2 separate regions of the Homo sapiens genome follow, and region 2 is linked to region 1. Evidence: fine-mapped expression QTL. A gene starts in region 1. The other region holds a variant in brackets. All regions are shown on one strand. Distances are from middle to middle.

Region 1 (10,251 bases):
TATATATACCTTACATTGTTAGTGGGGGTGATATTACTCCCAAGTGTTGAAAACTGGTTATTGGAGGGATGTATCTTAGGTGTCATAATGGTTTGTGACACTCTAAAGGACTACAGGACACAAACAGATACACAGTAAAACTGTGGTATTAAAATATAATGAGAAGGAGGTGATAAGGAATAAACATGTCTAAAAAAGCTCCTTGGGGACAATAACAAAAAAAAGGTTGTGAATACATATATATGTGTAAGTGTATATACACACCTTTATGTACACTATTTTTTCTTTTTAACGAAAACAGAATATATGGTACTGTATATTCTGTCTCTTGCTTTTATTATCATTCAATACGCTATGTCACATGTAAATCATAGTTGCATGCAAATCATTTCAGAGGTAAGGTAGGTAACATCAACAAGACAAACAGGGTTTGGGGAAGAATGTAGACCATGGCAAAACTGTGAGCCCATGCTTCTTCATGAGGAACATCAGCTCCTTTACATCAGCTCCAGCTCATGGTTGCTATGTGGGAATTTAGGCCCAGTGTTACCATATTCTCTAATTTTTCAAGCAATGGAAGTCTAAATTTTTGTGTATAATATGAATTTTGAATGTTGACAATAACTTTCCCTTGAGGGTCAACATTATGTGGGTCAAGCAAAACAGGTCTGGACTAGCACACAATGCTGGCTTCCTTTTGGACTTGTGAGGTAGAAGTTCAACTCACGATTTTTCAAAGAAATGTTGACATACTAACTGCAACACAACCTCCTGCAACAGAATTCCCACGTGATTTGCTCAAGCCTACGGAATCAGAAACTCTATGAATCCACCCAGGGATGTCACTTTTTAACAAGGAGTGTCTTATATAATCTCAAATTTGAGAACCAACCATATAGCATACTTTTTAACAGGTATATAATGATAATTGAATTCCAAACTATAAGAGTATCATACTTTGTCAAATCCATTTCCTTATTGGTGGATACTGAAGTTGCTGCCAGATTTTTTCCTTGGTACCTAATATTTCAATAAATGTCTTCATGCACCATTGCTTTTATTTTTGTAGTATAGATTTCCCAAATGAGGATTATTGGATATAATTTTAGGGTCTAATAGATGTTCATTTTAAAGTCTAGTAGACATTGTAAGCTTACCTTCAAAAGGTTTCAAAAAGTCACATTCCAACCAGCAATATACATGAGTGCCCTTATCCTAGGATCCAACTCTAAGTATATTAGAAACTTCCTTCCAAATTGATGAGTTAAAACATTCTTTAAGGCAGGGCGCGGTGGCTCATGCCTGTAATCCTAGCACTTTGGGAGGCCAAGGTGGGCGGATCACAAGGTCAGGATTTGAGACCAGCCTGACCAATATGGTGAAACCCCATCTCTACTAAAAATACAAAAATCAGCTGGGCATGGTGGCGGGCACCTGTACTCCCAGCTACTTGGGAGGCTGAGGCAGGAGAATCACTTGAACCCAGGAGGTAGAGGTTGCAGTGAGCCGAGATCGCGCCACTGCACTTCAGCCTGGGTGACAGAGCAAGACTCTGTCTCAAAATAAATAAATAAATAAATAAATAAATAAATAAATAAATAATAAAAATAAAAAAATTCTTTATTTTTTAAGTGTACAGTATAATGTACTGATTTGGGGTGCAGTTAAAAGTTTTTTTTTCCACATTTATAAGTTGTTTGCAATTCCTCTACTTGAGGGAGTTTACAGATAGTCACCAGCTGAAAATGGCAGTATTGAGAGTGAGAGAGTATACAGCTACATAGTATCAGTTTCCTTGATACCCTTACCTTCTTCCCAGGCTCCACCCTCCTCTCAAATTTCTGCTACTCCTCACATACAGTGTTCCTGAAGCCACTGATTATCTTTCACCCTCCTGTGAGGACTCTATGTTCTCCTTTGGAATTATTTTCACTTGTTCATTTTCTTGGCCAATTTTGCTGTTTAATTTTATATCTTTTTCTTATCTATTTGATGTAACTGTGCAAACTAGATCTTTAACAATTTGCCTTACATACTGTTTTAATACAACAAATTTTAAAAGTTACTGTTTTACTTAATACTCTACTCAATTTTGAGCAAACTTCATTTGATTTTAATTATAGCAACCATTTAAAACAAGCAGCGCCATTTTAGCTTGTTGCCTTTCTGTAACTGCTTTTAGAAATTCACTTTCTTTAACAACGTGCAATTTCTTCATAATGCCATAGTAAGTTAACTGTAGAGAAGTCACTAATGAATATTATTTTACTTTATTAAATAACAGCAAGGGAAATATAAAAATTTAAATAGTTTTACATGCAACCTAAAAACTTTCCAAACTCAAAAATGGACTTTTTTTTGGAGGGGGGTAGCTTTCTCTCAAGAACTCTTATTTCAAAATCCAAATGGGATTTCAAAATACAAGCAAATAAATGTCAAAGCCTCTTGGCCTCTGCTCTGCCATTCTATGCCTGAAATCCTGCCAAAATGAAATTTTCCGTTCAAAAGGGCTGGCATTTACTAAACTGATGTTTTAAAGACATTCTCAAAAAGTAGTGGAAACTTTGTCCAGCTTTTTATGTTCCTGTCTTGTAGACAGAACAGCTGCCTTTGCAGATATTTTCCAAGATCTTACATTTTCTGAAAAACAAATTTTCAGCCCTTCCACTGTCTTCAGCAAGTGGGTCTATTGGTTTTTCCCAGTGCCAAGCAGAGAAGATAAACAACTGCCAAACTAGAAGCTAGTGTCTGAGTATCAAGGCATAGAAAGGACAGAAGAGATAGTGTTTCAGTAAGTATCAATGCAGAGAAAGGACAGAAGAGAAAGTGGGAGAAAGAAAAGAGGGTGGTTCAATCGTTCACAGTCAAGAGGGACACATTTATCTCAAAATTTTAGGCTGTTTCAACAAAACCGAGCTGTAGCGAGACTAGCTGCTTATTCACACGAGAACATCATTTTCAGTTACTATGAAGATCAAAGAGTTAAAAGATATGAGTTCGTTTAAAGAACTCAAAAGGGAAAATATGAAGCCACCGCAATACGTAGTAAAATCTGAGGCTTAACAGCGCAGCGCCTGAGAGTGCCAGTCCACTAAAGGGAGGGAGAAGGGGCGCAGAGCTTATGGGGGCCTGGGAAGGAGTGATAAGTCTTTGGAAATGGAAACTAAAGCTATCAGCCAGCGAAAACCATCAATATTCCTAAAAATATATAATACTAATAATACATAAAAGCTTTAAAAAACTAACAAGACACTGTGGGATACAAAAAAAGGTAGAAATGAAAATTACAGAATGTTAAGTGAAAAAACTGAAATCCATCTACAGTCGAACAGTTTGCACCTTTAAAAGCAATGACTTGAAGCAGCAAGCAAAAGTTCCCAGTCCTTAAGACTTTCTCCCCACTCTCAATTCTTTCTTTCCTCTAGTGCAAAAGCTGTCTAAGCAGTGCACGCCGGAATTATCCCCACGTGAGCCTTCCTTTAATTTCGGTCTTAATTTTTTTCTCTCTTGTTATTACTCCCAGACCCCAACCTCTTTTTCCTCATCTAGTATCTGTTTCAGGGACAGGACAAAGAGGAGGCAGCGAGCTGAAAAAAGTTTTGTGGTTTGGGATACTTGGGCCTTTGTTGTGTCATTTCCTCTACCCCTCCACGCCCCCAACCACGTGACCAAGAAGGGCCGGAATTTTGTGAATGGAGACGAAAGGTGGCTGTTGGGGCGGGCGGGACTCCGCCCCCTTCCCTAAAGCGGCCAATCTCCTAGCGGAGCGCTGAGGGGTCAGCAATAAACAACAATGGGCTGGGGATTTACGGCTCGTTATTGGCTGCGGGAAGAACCTCGCCGGGACCTAACCCGAAGCTCCGCCCCCTCGCGGTTACCCTGGATACCCGTCAGGCTCGGGCTGCAGAGAAGGTCTTTGGAAACTGTTGCTCAGATTACAGGCGCTGGGTTATTCCAGGAGTGCAGGGTGGTGGAGGACCCTTGTTATTGACCCCCTGCTTGGTTGCACCCTCAGATAGTACCCATGAGCTTCACTGTTCAGCCTCGGGGCCCAGGCGCTTCCTGGAATCTCTCCTTGGCCGGGGTTAAAATGCAGTTCCCGCTCAAAATGCTTATAGGTGCGCGCGTTGTGAACTCCGATTTAGTAGTTTCCGGGAATGCGCGGGGTCTGTCTTTGCTGTCCATAGTTATTGGTTGTTTTCCCAGTAATAAGTGTTGATTGTTTGTTTGTTTGCTTCTTTTTTAAGTAGATCTTTCTCCTGCCCAGGTCCGGGGTTGAGTGCTGTGCGCTCTTACACTCCATTTTAATGTGTCTCCATAACGTTCTATTTAAGGAAGGAAACTTTCAAATAGAAATTGAGAACTGCAGCACGTTTCCTAACGGGCGGAACAGCTGCCGGAAACGTCTTTTGGTCACTAGTTCTGGTCACAAATGAATTTCAACAGCATTGAGTCCCTGGTCCTATCCCCGCGGCCTCCCGTCCGCTGTTGGACACTGGCTCCTTAAAGTGACGCTTTACTGTTCTGAGTCCCATAGGAGGATCAGGGCAAGTGGCTTCAGAGATGCAGCCCTCACTGCTTAACGTCCTAGTTATTGTCCTTGAAACCCGAGCCATCTCACCGCTCGCCCCCAACCCTGGGCTCTGGCTGTTTAAAAGCTGGAGAGGAAGTGAAAGCGTCAAGTACAGTAAGTGACACCCTCCGCCTCCGTGTATACATAACAAAAGCTCAGGAAACGTGCGGGTTCTAGGATATACGAGCAACCCCAAGCACTCCCTCCTCCTCCCCACAGCCACAGTGGACTGGAAGTACCTTTTCCCAGTGCACACGTAGGGACCATTTTGACTTATACTTTTTCACCTAGCTTGCTCTGTTGTCCTCCCATCACAACCTCTGCTAATCAGCAATTCTGCATCTCCTAGGTGCCTTCCTTATAGATTCTTTATGTTTCTGTCCCACGAACGATAGGATCTAATTTTAGTTGAGGATGACTGTTTAAAAAATGTTTCGATAAACCATAATGGTGATGGTGGGTTTTGAAAAACGGGAAAATAAATTGGGCCAAAAGCTGAGTGGGAATGAGGATAGAGAGCGAGGTGAGCTCCTAGTCAGGGCAAGAGTAGAGAGGTTGGAGATCCTGAGGGGAGGGCAGCTGAATAAGGCGGTACGGGCTTTGTGGATCGCGGCTCTAAGGGTATACCAGAACCGCACAACAGTACTTTAAGGAAACCAGCCCAATAGTGGACCTAACACCCCAATAATGGGAACTGGCGACTCGAAACACACGGTTTCAGTATCCCCAGGCGCCTTAACAATAAGCAGCGGGTTACAGAGGAAATCGAGTCTCTCCGTGGCGCTTCCAGGCTGAGGACCCAGCGCCTACCGGCCGAGCACCCCCTAGGGCAGAGGGGCGAGGGAGACCCGCGGGAAGGGGCAGCAAGCCGCCTGATTGACAGCCCGAAATCTGATCTTGTGAAAGAGACGCGGAGCCAATGGGAGGCAGCGATCCATCAGTTTGGATTGGAGGCCCCTGGAGGAGAAGTAGAGGAAAAACCACCGAATTGAGCTCTGTCAGAGGCGCTTTCGGCTTCCAAGGGGGAAGTGCTGGGCTATAATTAATGTTTTTATTAAATTTGGAGGGAAGTTTTTGCAGCCTTTCGCCTAGCGTGGCCTTCAGGTGGGTCTTTCCAACAACTTTTTATGTCTCTCCAGATAATTGCATGGTTGTGGGTCGCAAAAACTATCCTGATGAAAGAGGTGTCTCCGTCTCTTTAGTCCCGTTAGGTGCAAAGCAAGTCTCGTTGATCGCCATTGCTAGTTTTGCACACGTTTGCGAATCAGAGCTGCCCGGGGTACACCGACCGCGCAGGGAAACATCGAGAGTGTAAATAAATACATCGCCTCTTGTTCGGATTTTTGCTACTACCGAAAATATGTAAATTGTGAACTCTGTTGGCTCTCTTTGGATCCAGGTGAAGGAGGCGGTGTAGGGAGGGTTATTTTTGTGAATGGGACTGTCGGAGGGTAATTAGCTATGCAAATTCAAGAGCTTCATTCATGATTTTTTTTTAAGCCTAAAAGCCATCTTGTTCCCCTCTAGGTTGATAGAAGTCCAGATCCTGAGGAAATCTCCAGCTAAATGCTCAAAATATAAAATACTGAGCTGAGATTTGCGAAGAGCAGCAGCATGGATGGATTTTATGACCAGCAAGTGCCTTACATGGTCACCAATGTGAGTGATCAGTTTGAAAGTTGCTGTTTATAAACTTGACTCCGTCGGGGGTGGGGAGAGGGAGAAAATGAGAAGGGAGGGGGCACGGGGGTTGGGATTGCAGATACTTATCTGCTTTGTTGCCACTGTAGGGCGACTCTGCTTCTAGAAGCCCAGTCTTCAAAATGAGCTTACCTTTCAGTGATTTGGATAAGGCATAGTTTTGTTTTTAAGACCCCTTTTTCTGATTAAAGTGCCCAACATGAGTGGAAGAGGAGATGGAGGGCAGCAGCAGCTGCTGCACTCAAAGTTTTTGGCTGGGTTTGTCTGCCACATTGAAAAGAATGAAGTTGAGACAAATGCTGACACTTTTTGTTTATATGGGGTGTTTTTGTTTCTTTTTTTTTTCTCATTTTCTCTTTTTTTTTTTTTTCATTTCTCTACTCTTTTTGCTTTTTTTTTTTGTGGGGGTGGGGTGGGGAGGAGGGGCTGTCCAAGAGAGAATAAAACCCACTGTTTTAATCTAGCATTGAACCAGCCTAAAAACAACTTTAAGTGTAAATGCTTCAGGTTGTTTTGATGCTGAGATACCATGAATATATGATTGATAAATAGTAATGTGCTAAGATCGGCACTGGGAAGCAACTCTCCCTGCCTGCTTAACATAAGCTTTCACTGTCAAATAAGTGAGAAAATGAATATTAGAGTTGATACTATGGACTTCTATTTTTCTATTCAGAGAAGATCCATTAGACTTATGTATGCATGTCTGTGTGTGTGTGTGTGCGCGCGCGTGTGCGTGTGTGTGATCTGAGGTTTACATTCTTTTAAAGGATTTTATCTTTCCCTTTGTAGAGTCAGCGTGGGAGAAATTGTAACGAGAAACCAACAAATGTCAGGAAAAGAAAATTCATTAACAGAGATCTGGCTCATGATTCAGAAGGTGAGGTTTGATTTTGGGCTGAATCCCCATTTTTTTACCTACACTCTCCACCCTGCTAAAAGAAAAGGAGCACTTCAGTCTTATCTTAAAAATAATAAACTTTGAAATTACTGAATCTAACTAAGACTTTAACTTGGAACGATTTACATAATGCGGCAGTTTGCATGGGAGACTATTTTATGGTCCTATCACAAAGTAATGAAAGAAGGAAATAAAAACTTCTCAATGACAACCTTCTTTTAATCATTGTTTTGTGTTTAAATACCTTTGTCCATGGGGCATATAACTCACCCCATTCACTAAGATAACAATTTAAAAATATCCAATACAGTGGGACAAATTCAGCAGCTATGTACACTGCTTACTTTTTTCTTTCTCCTTTATTACAAGTTAAACAGTATTAGTGATTGTTTGGTTTCCCACCTCCTTTACACTAAAACCATCTACTATTAACAGAATTTTCAAGGGTGATTTTGATGACTAAATTGTGAGGTCATAATACCTTGTTTATCGACCATAATGTGTTCACTGAATCATACTTAAGGCCTCCTTAATAATTATAATACTATTTGGGAAATTAGTTTGCAGATTCTTTTTATGAACTGTTGCTAGGATGTCAGTATGTTACAAATTATTTTAGCCATATGAGGACATTCATAATAAACTTAATATACTTAGATTTAATTATCAAAGTTTAGTTGGCAATTTTAATTAGATATACTGAATTCTGAAACTTCCTCAAATCTTCATACCATTTAAATACCTCCCTCTCTCCCTCCCTAACATGACCATATAGTTTAGAACTTGATGAGAACCTGGTGCCAAAGAATTATCTTTCTGACTTTTATAAACCTATTAATGTAGAAATTTTCCTCTAAAAACTTGTATTTGAAGTGGTTTCTTTTAGTTTCGAGGTATTGAAGTTGAAAACATAATACTTTGACAGTTGTACCATGTACCATTATATATTTTATGTAAGATTCAGAAGATATAAATAAAATGCTTTTCAGTCTTTCTAATCTTCCCCCTACTACTATTTTAGCAAGAGTTAAATATATTTAAGGAAGATTTCAGTGAACAGACACATATTCACCTCAGCCTTTTTGTGAATTCTGGTATCCCTGAGCTTATTTATTAAGCTGTTTGTTAAAAAGAAGAAAAGATGATTGACTTTATTCTTTAGTTGACTAAAATAATTTCTTAAAGAGTTGCTTAATAGGCATGAAAAGTAGGCAGTATTATTGAGATATTTAAGTTATGCCTCTTTTTTTTATTTTTATGTTGACTGCGTCTCTTGAAATTAAATTTATATTTAATACCAATTTCATGACAAATATTTCCATTTAATGAAGATTAAAGATTTGCAAATCTTATGTTTATGTCTTTGACTTGTTTTTTAGAACTCTTTCAAGATCTAAGTCAATTACAGGAAACATGGCTTGCAGAAGGTAAGGCAAAATTTGCTTTAAAAGGGGGGAAAGCAACTCTAGAAGGAGAAAGAAAAGAAGTCCTGAACTTGCTGTCTTAATATTCAGCCCAATTAATTGAGCTCTAAAAGAGCCACCTCATGTGTCATGCATACATTAGAGCCTCTGATGAGTTTGTCTTTGGGGACTCTGGGGCTGTACTACCCAGTGTCATCACAAATTACCAGGAGAAATTGCTTCCAGCTCACAATCACATCTGCTTTTGGCAAGAACTAATGCACCAAGACTTCAAGTTCTAAGCCTCTGTTCAGATTTTAATTGCAATTGATCAGGTTTATATTATTGTACCTCCAGAGACCTCCTAGAGCCAGAACCCGGCTGGCTTGCTGTTTCCTTTAGAGCAGCGCATATCATTATTTGGTGTTCTGGTGGAGGACTTTTCTGATGGCAGAAATTAGTTTCTCTGGGTTCATCAGGACGGGATGCTTCAAGATTTAAGTGCAAGTGTCTTCTTTCCACCTTGTTCACAACACAGAACGTTAGGTGTGTATCTAATGCTTAGGAAATCTATGGGTTTAAAATAAATGGGAGATATGAGGATTTTAAAAATGTTTTCCATGTGTTACTATTCATGTTATGTTTGCTGAAATTGACCTTTGCTATTTTGTCAGTTTTATTAGGATTTATTTAATAGAGCAAGGATACATTTAAAGGCATTACTTTCATTTTGAATTATTTTTTGTTAAAATTTTGTGGTGCAATCTGTTATATCTTTTATCGTATGCAACTTTATAGGAAAATGAGATTGCTTCATAAAGCTTTATACAACTTCAAAAATGCCTAATGTTGAGGGACTTCTGTTGGCATTCATAATTTGAAATTTTTCTTTTGGATTTGGCATACAAATGTGAAACATTAATTTTATGGTGTGGTTTGTGGGAAATACAAAGAGAAAAATTATAGATATTTAAGCATTGAGTGTATAACAGTATTATTTGTGTGTTCACATTATATGGGAAACATGCAAATTTTGGAACAGATTTTAAGATGGTTAAAAAGGAGAGAGTGGGTCTCTTTAAATGGAACCCAGGTGTTACTGTAGCTACTTTGAGGCAGACTGACGTGTTTTATCGGTGGTCTTGAATGCAGTTGATCAAGTTGCTGTTAGCATGTAAAATAAGTTTCTTTGTTTTGCTGATAGTCTAGTTCTCCAAAGAGCTTTTTCAATCTTTATCAATCTTTAAAGTTAAATAGCTTTCCTAATAGTCCTTTGAAAGGATGATTGTATTTATATGTTAATGAAGGTAAGACTTACTGAAAGTTTTGGCTATATTTAAGGATCATTTTGCTAGTCTGTGTAAATGAAACTTACTGCAATACATTACTTTTTATTGCAACATAAGTCATATTCAGATACAAGTTTTTCAAGGAAAATTTGCATGGAGATTCTTGTATTAACTTATGCCTATTAGTTTTGCAAAGTCAAAGGTTGTGAGAACATTACCTTTATGAGAGAATTTATTTGCTTCTCCAAAATAACTTAAAATATCTATTTTAATTGTTCTGGAAGGTTTGTTGGTTCTTAGATGTTTAAATCTCATTGATTCCAAGTCAGTGCACTTGCTGGCAGATTTTGAATGTGCATAGCAACTCTGTTCCTGGAATTTTAA
Region 2 (10,251 bases), 83 kb before region 1:
TCTCTACTAAAAATACAAAAATTAGCCAGGCGTGTGGCGCGTGCCTGTAATCCCAACTACTCGGGAGGCTGAGGCACGAGAATCGTTTGAATCCAGGAGGCAGAGGTTGCAGTGAGCAGAGAGTGTTCCACTTCACTCCAGCCTGGACAACAGAGTGAGACTTTATCTCAAAAAAAAGAAAAAAAGAAAAAAGATAGCAAAAATCCACCTGCAGATTACGTTTGTACTTTTGTAATAGCCTGCTAAAGGTTGGTATGTGTTGAAATAGATAGCTAGACTAGCCATCAATATCAGCACAAACTTTCTTGTTACTTTTATACTAACTTTACAAGTCCTTTGCCTCTCTAATTTTCAGCTATCTGTATTTTATGGTATACACCTGCTAAATCAAGTCTGAGTCCTCTTCAGGTCAATTCTCCTCCATAGGCATAATTATCTGAGGAGTTTTTTATTTACTCTGCTAATGCATTTTACATCACATCAACATTAGGCTATTTTTTAAATGTTTTAACTGTGATGAAAAAGCTGTAATAAAGAGAGTAAAAATAAAGTAAACAATTATTTGTATATAAGATATTATAACAGATGGGACATACAGCAGGAAATCTTCTATGATCATATGCCAGCTCCTTTTTTTTTAATCTTCATCATCACAATTAATGGCCACACAATGTTCATTCAGATTACTATGAATCTGTGTTCTTCAGATTTCATTTGATAAATATTCTCAGTAAGTTGTTTCCTTCCATGGGTCTTTGTTAATAGACATATCTTGAGAAACAAAGAATCAAAATACATGGCCATATTAATATTGTTTCATGTAGTCATAGTCAGAGCTTTTATCAGTTTATCCATTTTGAGGACATAGCCCACTCCTTCATGTGTGTTTGTTAGTGTGCCTGTTAGCCAGCTCAGTTTAGTCCTTCTCTTCCTTTAGAAGAGGAAGAGATTCCAGCAGAGTGCTTGCTCCAGGACATCTGAGTTGAAGCTAAATGAGCTAGTATTCTTTTGCTCCAAGCCTCTCACAAGGAGAGACAGAATTATATTAGTGTTTCCTTTTTTTAACCTCCATTAATTAACTATCTTTCCCTCATTTACAATCTCACTTTTCTTCCTTCTATCATTAATTTTTATCTAAAGCTTTTCCACTGAGATGGGTCTCTCTGGTCCAGCCAATGGTCTGGTCCATATTGCTGATAACAAGATGACACATACTAAGGCTTCCTCTTTTATTCTATTCCCAGTCATAGTGAGTTAGATGGGAAAAGTACAAAGAAATAGAATCATTACACAAAATATTTGCCACAAGGTTGTCAGGCCAAACTTGGCAGTCTGGAGAAGAAATAATTTATCCCATCAATCGCTTTGGGATTCTTTCAGTTATATTCAGATTAATAGACATAATTTCTTTTTTGGGATATTACCAGCCTCTGGGACAGTAACTCTAACCTAGGAATAATTGGGTATAGCACTGAAAAGAAATTGTTTACATACAAGGGAAGATTTGAATGTAGTAAGCTCCTGCATCATCTCTTCTCCCGTCTTTTCCAATTTTATTTCAAATGCACAATAATTTATCTAACAGAGACCCATAATAATCCTCTTGGTAAAATAAAATTAATAAAGATAAAGCTGGAAGTTGTAGGGCAGCCCTTCAATCCTTTGTTACCTGCATCTTTTTAAATAGGTGTTTTAATTGCACATGTCAGTTTTTATTAACCCACCACTTCGGGAATATATTTTAAAAGTCTATTGAATGTGATATTTCTGTTTCTTTACCCATCATTTCTCTAGAAGTTAATAACTTAATCTGATGAAATGTAATTAAGAGGACCAAAATGATAGAGTATTTCTTTTTTTTTTTTTTTTGGTCACGGTTCTTTGATAACATAAGCAGCTTTGGCTTCAGTTAGTGAGTATGGGAATCCAAACCCAGAATGTGTATCAAGTTCTGTCAATATCCTTTTAAGTACCCTCCCCTGGAGCAATAGGTTAAAAGCCAATGTAATCTACTTGCCAACTATACGCTGGCAAGGGTGAACTGCAGATTTTGCCTTTTCCATTGGCATACAGAAAAAATTATATTGGTAGAGGCCACCAGGGTGTGTTGTAATTTGGCACATCATTGCATGGTTTGAATTTGTCTGTGTTCACCCATGTCTTGGACCGAGGTTACCACTTCAAGAAATCCAAGTAGAACATCAACTTCTTGAGTTCAGTCATCTCAGATCCTGACACAGGGTTGCTGTGTTGAGCATCAGTGTGCCTTTGATTTTTTTTCTCAGAATTTCCACAGAGATTTACAAAGAGCAGTACACCAGGTGGAGGCCCCTCTGTGGTCCATCTGATCCATTTTCCAGAACAAATTGAAAGCCAAAAAGTCAATATAGTCATTATAAAAAGCCAAAGAGTAGAGCCTTTTTTTTTTTTTAAGTTCTTCTATCATTGCGAAGAACACAGCCTGTAATACAGGCTCTGTACTTTTCCATGAGTATTTTACTGTTTGCTGAATGCAGAACAGCTGATTTATTTTGCTGTAGAGACAGGGTCTTGCTATGTTGACAAGGCTAGTATCAAACTCCTGGCCTCAAGCAATCCTCTTACCTCAGCCTACCAAAGTGCTGGGTTTACAGGTGTGAGCCATTGCACCCAGCCCTGATTTTCATGCCAGGTCTTGGCATTTGCTTTTGGAACTGTCTTTTGTGAACCAGGGCAATTGCCTTACATTCTAAGACAATTGCTCAAAAATATGCCCGTTCAACAATAGTACCATGCAAATCCTTAAGCAGCCTTACAGTAGGTCATAGGAAGAAAAAGGCTACTTGCTTACTAATGTAAGAAGTCTTTCCTGTAAATTATCTGGTAGGATGCTCTTACATATGCCCTTTTTATTCCATCTTATGTGGAAACTTCTTTCGGCATCTCCCTCTTTTTTTGCAATGCTTTACTGGGGCTTTAATATGGCCTTAAACAATTTACTTATTCGGGCTGTCTGTGTAGGTGCCCAATAATAAGCCAGTAACTATCTTTTAAAAGGAGTATACCAGAGAGGAGCATCTGGTCATTTTATAATTCAAAAGACAAGAGATAACTGTTCAGTAGCAGTGGTTATGGGGTTTTATGAAAGACTCCAGTTGGCTAAATATGAGTGGCCAACACTTCTAGTATCATTTCAACATTAGGACCATGTTATCCAAAAGAATAACTAGCATTACAGCCCTCAATTAAACATGGCCTTCTTTAAAAGATTTTAAGGATCAGATCTAACAGTATTCCAAATGACGGATGTGATTTCTGTAAAAGTCAAGAAAGGCCAATAGACATTGTTCAGGTTAAGAAACAGGCAGTAAAAATCATTCATTTTTAGTGGTCTGCAATAAGTCATAGGTTGCTCAAGTCCATGCAATGCTCAAAAGATTCACTGTCTATGTGGGGCTCTGAATTTTTGTGAGGTTAATCAACCATTCCTGATTATCATGCAATTTATGACTATAGTAAATTTGATTTTGGCTTGATTCTTAGGTTCTAAAATAATTATAATATCATCAATAGAAAACTGCCAGTTCTACTAGATCTACAACCCATGTTATCATATCACAACATTATAGGAGAGAATTCAAGGGTTTTTAATCATACATTACAAATGCTATCCAGACTGTTTTTACCCTACTACAATAGCATCCTCACATCCCTGTAAATTGATTTTGTTAGCCCTAAAAGACTCATGAGCAGGACTAGGCAGCACTATACACTGTGCTTCTTTATCTAATAGACCTCAAATAGTTTCCATTCCACCCCAGGCCATTTCAACCACACAATGTATTACTGGAGATTGGATCTAAAGGCACTGACCTTCATGTCAATTTTATTCTTATATTACAAAATAAATGTTAAAAGAGAGTATTTTGGCATCTAATACTGGAAGCTCATTAGAACTTTTCCTTGCTTGTATTTTATCTAGGTGCAAATAAGATGAGCATATCTTTCTCGATATTTTTAACATCAGGGGGTATTTGAGGAGAGATGGTTATGAGTCCCACAATTTCCTATGAAATTCCACCAAGCTTCAGGTGATCACACTATCAGTTTCCTCCTTTTGCATACCAATTTTAATCAGCCATCCCAGGACTTCCCTTCGATGTAATTAGACTCTGAATAGTTGCCTCTTTTATTATCTTGAAGTTTCATATGAGGAAGTGGAAGGAA[C/A]AAAAAGTTATTGCCTGCCTCCCATGAGGGAGCTTGTTTCCATGGAGGTGAAGGGTTACAATCAGGAAGTATCCCACTACATCACATGCCAGGAAAGGAAGGCCTCTTTGTCCCTCTAGACCTGAGACTTTCTTCTCACATTGAGCAACACCAGGCAGCCCAGTCTGGCTAAACCCCTCTCACTTCCATCCCTTCAAGCAGTATGAACAGGGAGCAGTGGGAGCCTCGGTAGTCCCAGATAAACCAAAGGCCAAAATAAAAACCATAAAGACCCAAAAAAAGTATAAAATTAAACTGTTATTAGAACAGCAGCCCACAAAAGTAGGCTAAGATGTGCACGCTAAAGCTTAACAGCGTGACTGACTGCTAAAATAAAAGATTCAAATAGGAGCCAGAATCTCCTAACACAATAGATAACAGTTCCAGAATACAATAAAAACATCACCCATCATACTAAGAATTAGGAAAATAAAAATTTGAATGAAAAAAGACTATCAACTAATGCCAACACTGAGATAAAGCAGCTGTTGGAATTATCTGACATAAAACTTTAACACAGTCATCAAAAAACACTTCAACATCAATTATAGATTTTTCTTGAAATAAATAAAAACAGAAAACTCAGAAAAGAAATAGAACTTATAAAAAGAACCAGTGGAAACAAACAGAAAATATAGAACTGCTGGCTTGGTTCAATGTAAGACTGGAGATGACAGAGGATAAAATAAGTGAACTTGAGGACAATCAATAGAATTTACCAAATCTGAATAAAAGGCAGAAAAATAGACAAAATATATGTGAACAGAGCCTCAGGAGCCTGTGATATATAGCAGTCATATCATTAGAGTCCCATAAGAAGAGAGAAAAAGAATGGGACTGAAATAGTATTTAAAGAAATCATTACTGAAAACTCTCCAAACTTGACAAAAGACACAAACCTTCGATCTAAGGAGTCCTGTGAACCCCAAACAGAATAAACCCAAGCAAATCTACACTAAAGCACAAAATCATTAACTTCTGAAAATAGCCAGAGAGACAGCACATTATCTACAGGGGAATACCAATTCAGATGATTTCTTATCTGTAACCATGAAGGCCAGAGCACGTGGCACAATATTTTTCCAGTGCTGAAAGAAAGAAACTGTTAACTTTCTTCTTCAGGAATTAAGGGGTAATTTGCCAGGAACCTCACATCTCTCCTTTTGGCAACTAATGGTACAACTAGACAGAAAATAAGCAAGGCTACAGATGAACTTACATAGAACACTCTACCCAACAACAGCATAATGTACATTTTTTTAAATGTAACCATGGAAAATTTACCAAGATAAGTCATACCCTGACCAGAAAATAAACCTTAAGAAAATTTAAAGAATTTAAATCATACAGTGTGTTCTCTGACTATAATGAGTCTAGTTAGAAATCAATAACAGAAATACAACAGGAAAATGTCTAAATACATGGAAAGCAAACAACAAACCACCAAAAAGCCCATAAAAAGATGGAAGGAAGAAAATCATAAAGGGCAGAAGTCAATAAAATTTAAAAATTGGAGAACAATAGGGACAATCAATTAAACAAAAGCTGTTTCTTCCAAAAAAATTAACAAAATTGACAAACCTCTGCAAAACTGACAAGAATAAAACAAACACAAATCATCAATATCAGGAATTAAATAGGGGATATCATCACAGATTCTATAGCCATTGAAAGAATAATGAGGCCGGGCACGGTGGCTCACGCCTGTAATCCCAGCACTTTGGGAGGCTGAGACGGGCGGATCATGAGGTCAAGAGATAGAGACCATCCTGGCTAACATGGTGAAACCCCATCTCTACTAAAATTACAAAAAAATTAGCCGGGCGTGGTGGCAGGCGCCTGTAGTCGCAGCTACTCTGGAGGCTGAGGCAGGAGAATGGAGTGAACCTGCCATTGCACTCCAGCCTGGGCGACGAGCGAGACTCTGTCTCAAAAAAATAATAATAATAATAAAATAATGAGAAAGTATAACAGACAATTTTACATACATAAATTTGATAACGTAATGTAACAAATTCCTCAAAAGCCACAAACTACCTAAACTGACCCAAGGTGAAATAAATGTTATAAATATTCCTATAGCTATTAAAGAAATTTGATTCATATTTTGAAAGGACGCAAAAAGGAAATCTCTAGCTCTAGCTGGTTTTGTTGGTGAATTCAACCAAACATTTAAAGAAGAATTAACATCACTTTTGCAAATTTTACACTACTTATTTCAGAATTAGAAAAAGAAGGGACACTTTCTAATTTATTTTACCAAAACCAAAGGAAGTACAAAAAAAATTACCGGCCAGTATCTCTCAAGAATTTACATGACTCTTTCCCATCTTGCAAGATGGCAGATGAAAAAGCTGATAAACTGGATACTAAAGAGAAGAAACTCAAAGCCAAGAGGGCTGATGGTGACAGGGTGAAAAAGGGTGACATGACCTCAAAGCTAAAAAGCCCACGAAAGGGAAGCTTCATTGCAGCTGAAATCCTGTCCTTGTCTGAGGAACTGGCAGATGTTCCCAATCTGCTACATATTGCAGAAGGGCCATGCACAAGAGGAAGTACTTAGCCGCTAAATCCAAAGTTGAAAAAAAAAAAAAAAAATGAAGGAAAGGTGTGTGGTGACAAGCAGGGTGGTGCCCAGATAGTTAAACTTCGCAAAATCCCTAGATATTATTCTACTGGAGATGTGCCTCGAAAGCTGTTGAGCCACAGCCAAAAACCCTTCAGTCAGCACTTGAGAAAACTACGAGCCACAGTCACCCCCGGGGCCATTCTGATCATTCTCACTGAGTGCTACAGAGGCAAGAGGGTGGTTTTCCTGAAGCAGGTGGCTAGTGGCTTGTTAGTTGTGACTGGATCTCTGGCCCTCAATTGAGTTCCTCTACAAAGAACACACCAGAAATTTGTCATTGCCATCTCAACCAAAATTAATATCAGTAATGTAAAAATCCCAAAACATCTTACTGACATTTCAAGAAGAAGCGGCTATGGAAGCCCACACACCAGGAAGGTGAGATCTTCAACACAGAAAAAACAAATACAAGATTACAGGGCAGCACAAGATTGATCAGAAAACTGTGGACTCACTAATTTTCCCCAAAATCAAAGCTATTCCTCAGCTCCAGGACCACCTGCATCTGTGTTTGCACTGACAAATGGAATTTATCCTCACAAATTGGTGTTCTAAATTTCTTAAGAACCAAATTACATAATTGATAACAACAAAGAATTTACATGAAAAACCATCAACAAAAATATTAGTAAACCCAATTTAACAATATGCATAAAAAGAACTTTCCTGCATTACCAAATAACATTAATTCCAAGTATGTTAAGACTGATTAAACATTTGAATATCATTCAGTGTAATCCACTGAATGAAGAAACACCTGAGGCTGGGTAATTTATAAAGGAAAAAGGTTTAACTGACTCACAGTCCCGCAGGGTTGGGGAGGCCTCAGGAAACCTACAGTCAGTCATGGCAGAAGGGGAAGCAAACACATCCTTCTTCACACCGCAGCGGGAAAGAGAGGAGTGCCTCTTATAAAACGACCAGATCTCGTGAGAACTCACTCACTATCACAAGAACAGCATGGGGGTAATTGTCCCTATGATTCAATTACCTCACCCTGGTTCCTTCCCACAACACCTGGAGATAATGGAAACTACAATTTAAGATGATACTTAGGTGGAGACACAGTCAAACCATATCACAATCATGTCAATAAGCTAAAAAAAAACATATGAGCATTTTAAGTGGCCCACAAAAATAACAAAATCCAAAATTGATTCATGATTTATAAAAAAAGGAACGTTCAGCAAATGAGAGATAGAGAAGTACCACAGTTTGCTGAAGAGCAACTGTAAAAACCCTACAGTCAACATTTTACTTAATGGTTGAAGACTATAATACACTTTCTCTTTAAGATCAGGAAGAAGACAAGAATATCTACTCTCATTACTCTTATTGAACATATTACTGGAAACTTTAATTACTGCGATAGTGCAAGATAAAGAAATAAAAGGGATACAGCTTATAAAGTAAGAAACTGCTCCTAAAGTTGAACAATGTGGTACAATAAAAGATCAAGTCACAAAAATGAATCATGTATTTATACACTAATGATGAACATTCTGAAACGGAAATTAAAAACACAGTATCATTTATGATCACTCCAAAGAAAATGAAATACTTAGGTCTATACTTAACCAAAAATATACAGAATCCACATGCTATAATTTTTTTTTTTAGACGGAGTCTTGCTCTGTTGCCAGGTTGGAGTGCAGTGGCGCGATCTTGGCTCACTACAACCTTCGACTCCCTAGTTCAAGCGGTTCTCCTGCCCTAGCCTCCCGAGTAGCTGGGATTACAGGCACGCATCACAACGCTCAGCTAATTTTTGTATTTAGTGTAGAGACGGAGTTTCACCATGTTGGCTAGGACGGTCTCGATCTCCTGACCTCGTGATCTGCCTGCCTCGGCCCCCCAAAGTGCTGGGATTACAGGCATGAGCCACCGTGCCCGGCCTACATGCTATAAATTTTAAGATATTGACAAAAGAAATGAATGAATATCTAAGTAAATGGAGAAGCATACCTTGCATGAATTGGGTTGGAATTTTCTTCAAATTGGTTTATAGACTTAATGTAATTCCAAAGGACCTACAATAGCTTATGCAATTTTGACAAAGAAGGAAAGAAAGAAAAACAGAAGAAAAGAGAATAATGCAAGAGGAGTCAGTCTACTCAACATTAAGGCTTACTCTATAAACGTAACTATAATTTTATATATTTTTTATATATATATAATTTTATATATACATACATATAAAGATTTTTACAGTCCAGGAGTAGGCAATGAATTATTATTAGACTTGACACCAAAGGCCCAATCCATAAAGAAAAAAATGTATAAATTCAACCTCATTAAAATTAAAAACTTTTGCTCTGCAAAATACTATTAAGAGGATGAAAAAACAAACCAAAGCCTGAAAGAGAATATTTTCAAAACACATATCTGTCAAAAGACTAGTATCTAGACTAGATAAATTACTCCCAAAACTTAACAGTTAAAGAAACAAATAATCCAATTAGAAAATGGGCAAAATACAAAGAGATACATCACCCATGAAGATATAAAAATCCTTCAGTAATAAGCATATGAAAATATGTTCATATCATTAGACATTAGGAAAATATAAACTCAAACCACAATGTAATGTCACTAATCTTTTTTCTATTTTTAAAATGTTTCATCTTAAAAGGTTATATAGGCCGGGTTTGGTGGCTCATGCCTGTAATCCCAGCACTTTGGGAGGCTGGGGCAGGAGGATCATGAGGTCAAGAGATGGAGACTATCCTGGCTAACACGGTAAAACCACATCTCTACAAAAATACAAAAAATTAGCTGGGCATGGTGGTGGGCGCCTGTGGTCCCAGCTACTTGGGAGGCTGAGGCAGGAGAGAGAATTGCTTGAACCCAGGAGACGGAGCTTGCAGTGAGCCGAGATGGCGCCACTGCACTCCAGCCTGGGCAACAGAGCGAGACCCCATCTCAAAAAAAAAAAAAAAAAAAAAGTTATATACATGGTCCAAAGAAAATAATACAAAAATAAATAAATAAAATGTTATATAAATGGAGTAATATAATATGTAATCTTTTAAGATGGAGTTCTTTTTTAAATTCAATAATTCCCTGGAGATGTATCCAAGTTGGTATGTATCAATAGTTCCTTCCTTTTTGTTGCTAAGAAGTATTCAATAGTATGGATGTGCCATAGTTTGTTAAACATGGAAGAGAGATTAGTGGTCCGCAAGGGACAGAGATGGAAAACTTTTGTGGGGAGGGAGGTTGACGTGATTATAAAAGAGCAATAGGAAGAAACCTAGTGGTGATGGAAGTGTTCTTTCTCTTAGCTGTGGTGGATACATGAAACCACTATGTGATAAAATTGTACAGACTGAATACACACACAAACACCTACAGATGAGTATAAGCAAAAACAGGTA

Alleles and levels. Alleles are on the strand shown, and positions count from the first base shown. SD is a standard deviation of normalised expression in the study named.
For the expression in subcutaneous fat of the gene that starts at base 5,574 in region 1, C is the high allele of the variant in region 2 and A is the other (small effect, 0.37 SD a copy in GTEx).

Evidence for each region. PIP is the estimated chance that this variant, and not a neighbour inherited with it, causes the effect.
Region 2: its variant is fine-mapped to the expression of ETV1 in subcutaneous fat (GTEx, PIP above 0.99). The same link has a PIP of 0.9 or more in visceral fat.

The regions. Positions count from the first base shown.
Region 1 is chr7:13,984,989-13,995,239 of GRCh38, reverse strand. It overlaps ETV1 (ETS variant transcription factor 1), which reads left to right and starts at 5,574. Exons shown (of 14, transcript NM_004956.5): 1 at 5,574-5,677; 2 at 5,776-5,972; 3 at 6,101-6,232; 4 at 7,067-7,154; 5 at 8,555-8,602. The coding sequence starts at 6,188. RefSeq lists enhancers at 3,553-4,054, 9,400-10,194.
Region 2 is chr7:14,067,713-14,077,963 of GRCh38, reverse strand. It overlaps the pseudogene RPL6P21. Among named protein-coding and RNA genes, the nearest start is that of ETV1, 83 kb to the right of the region's middle. The variant C/A (reference allele first, on the strand shown) is at 4,207.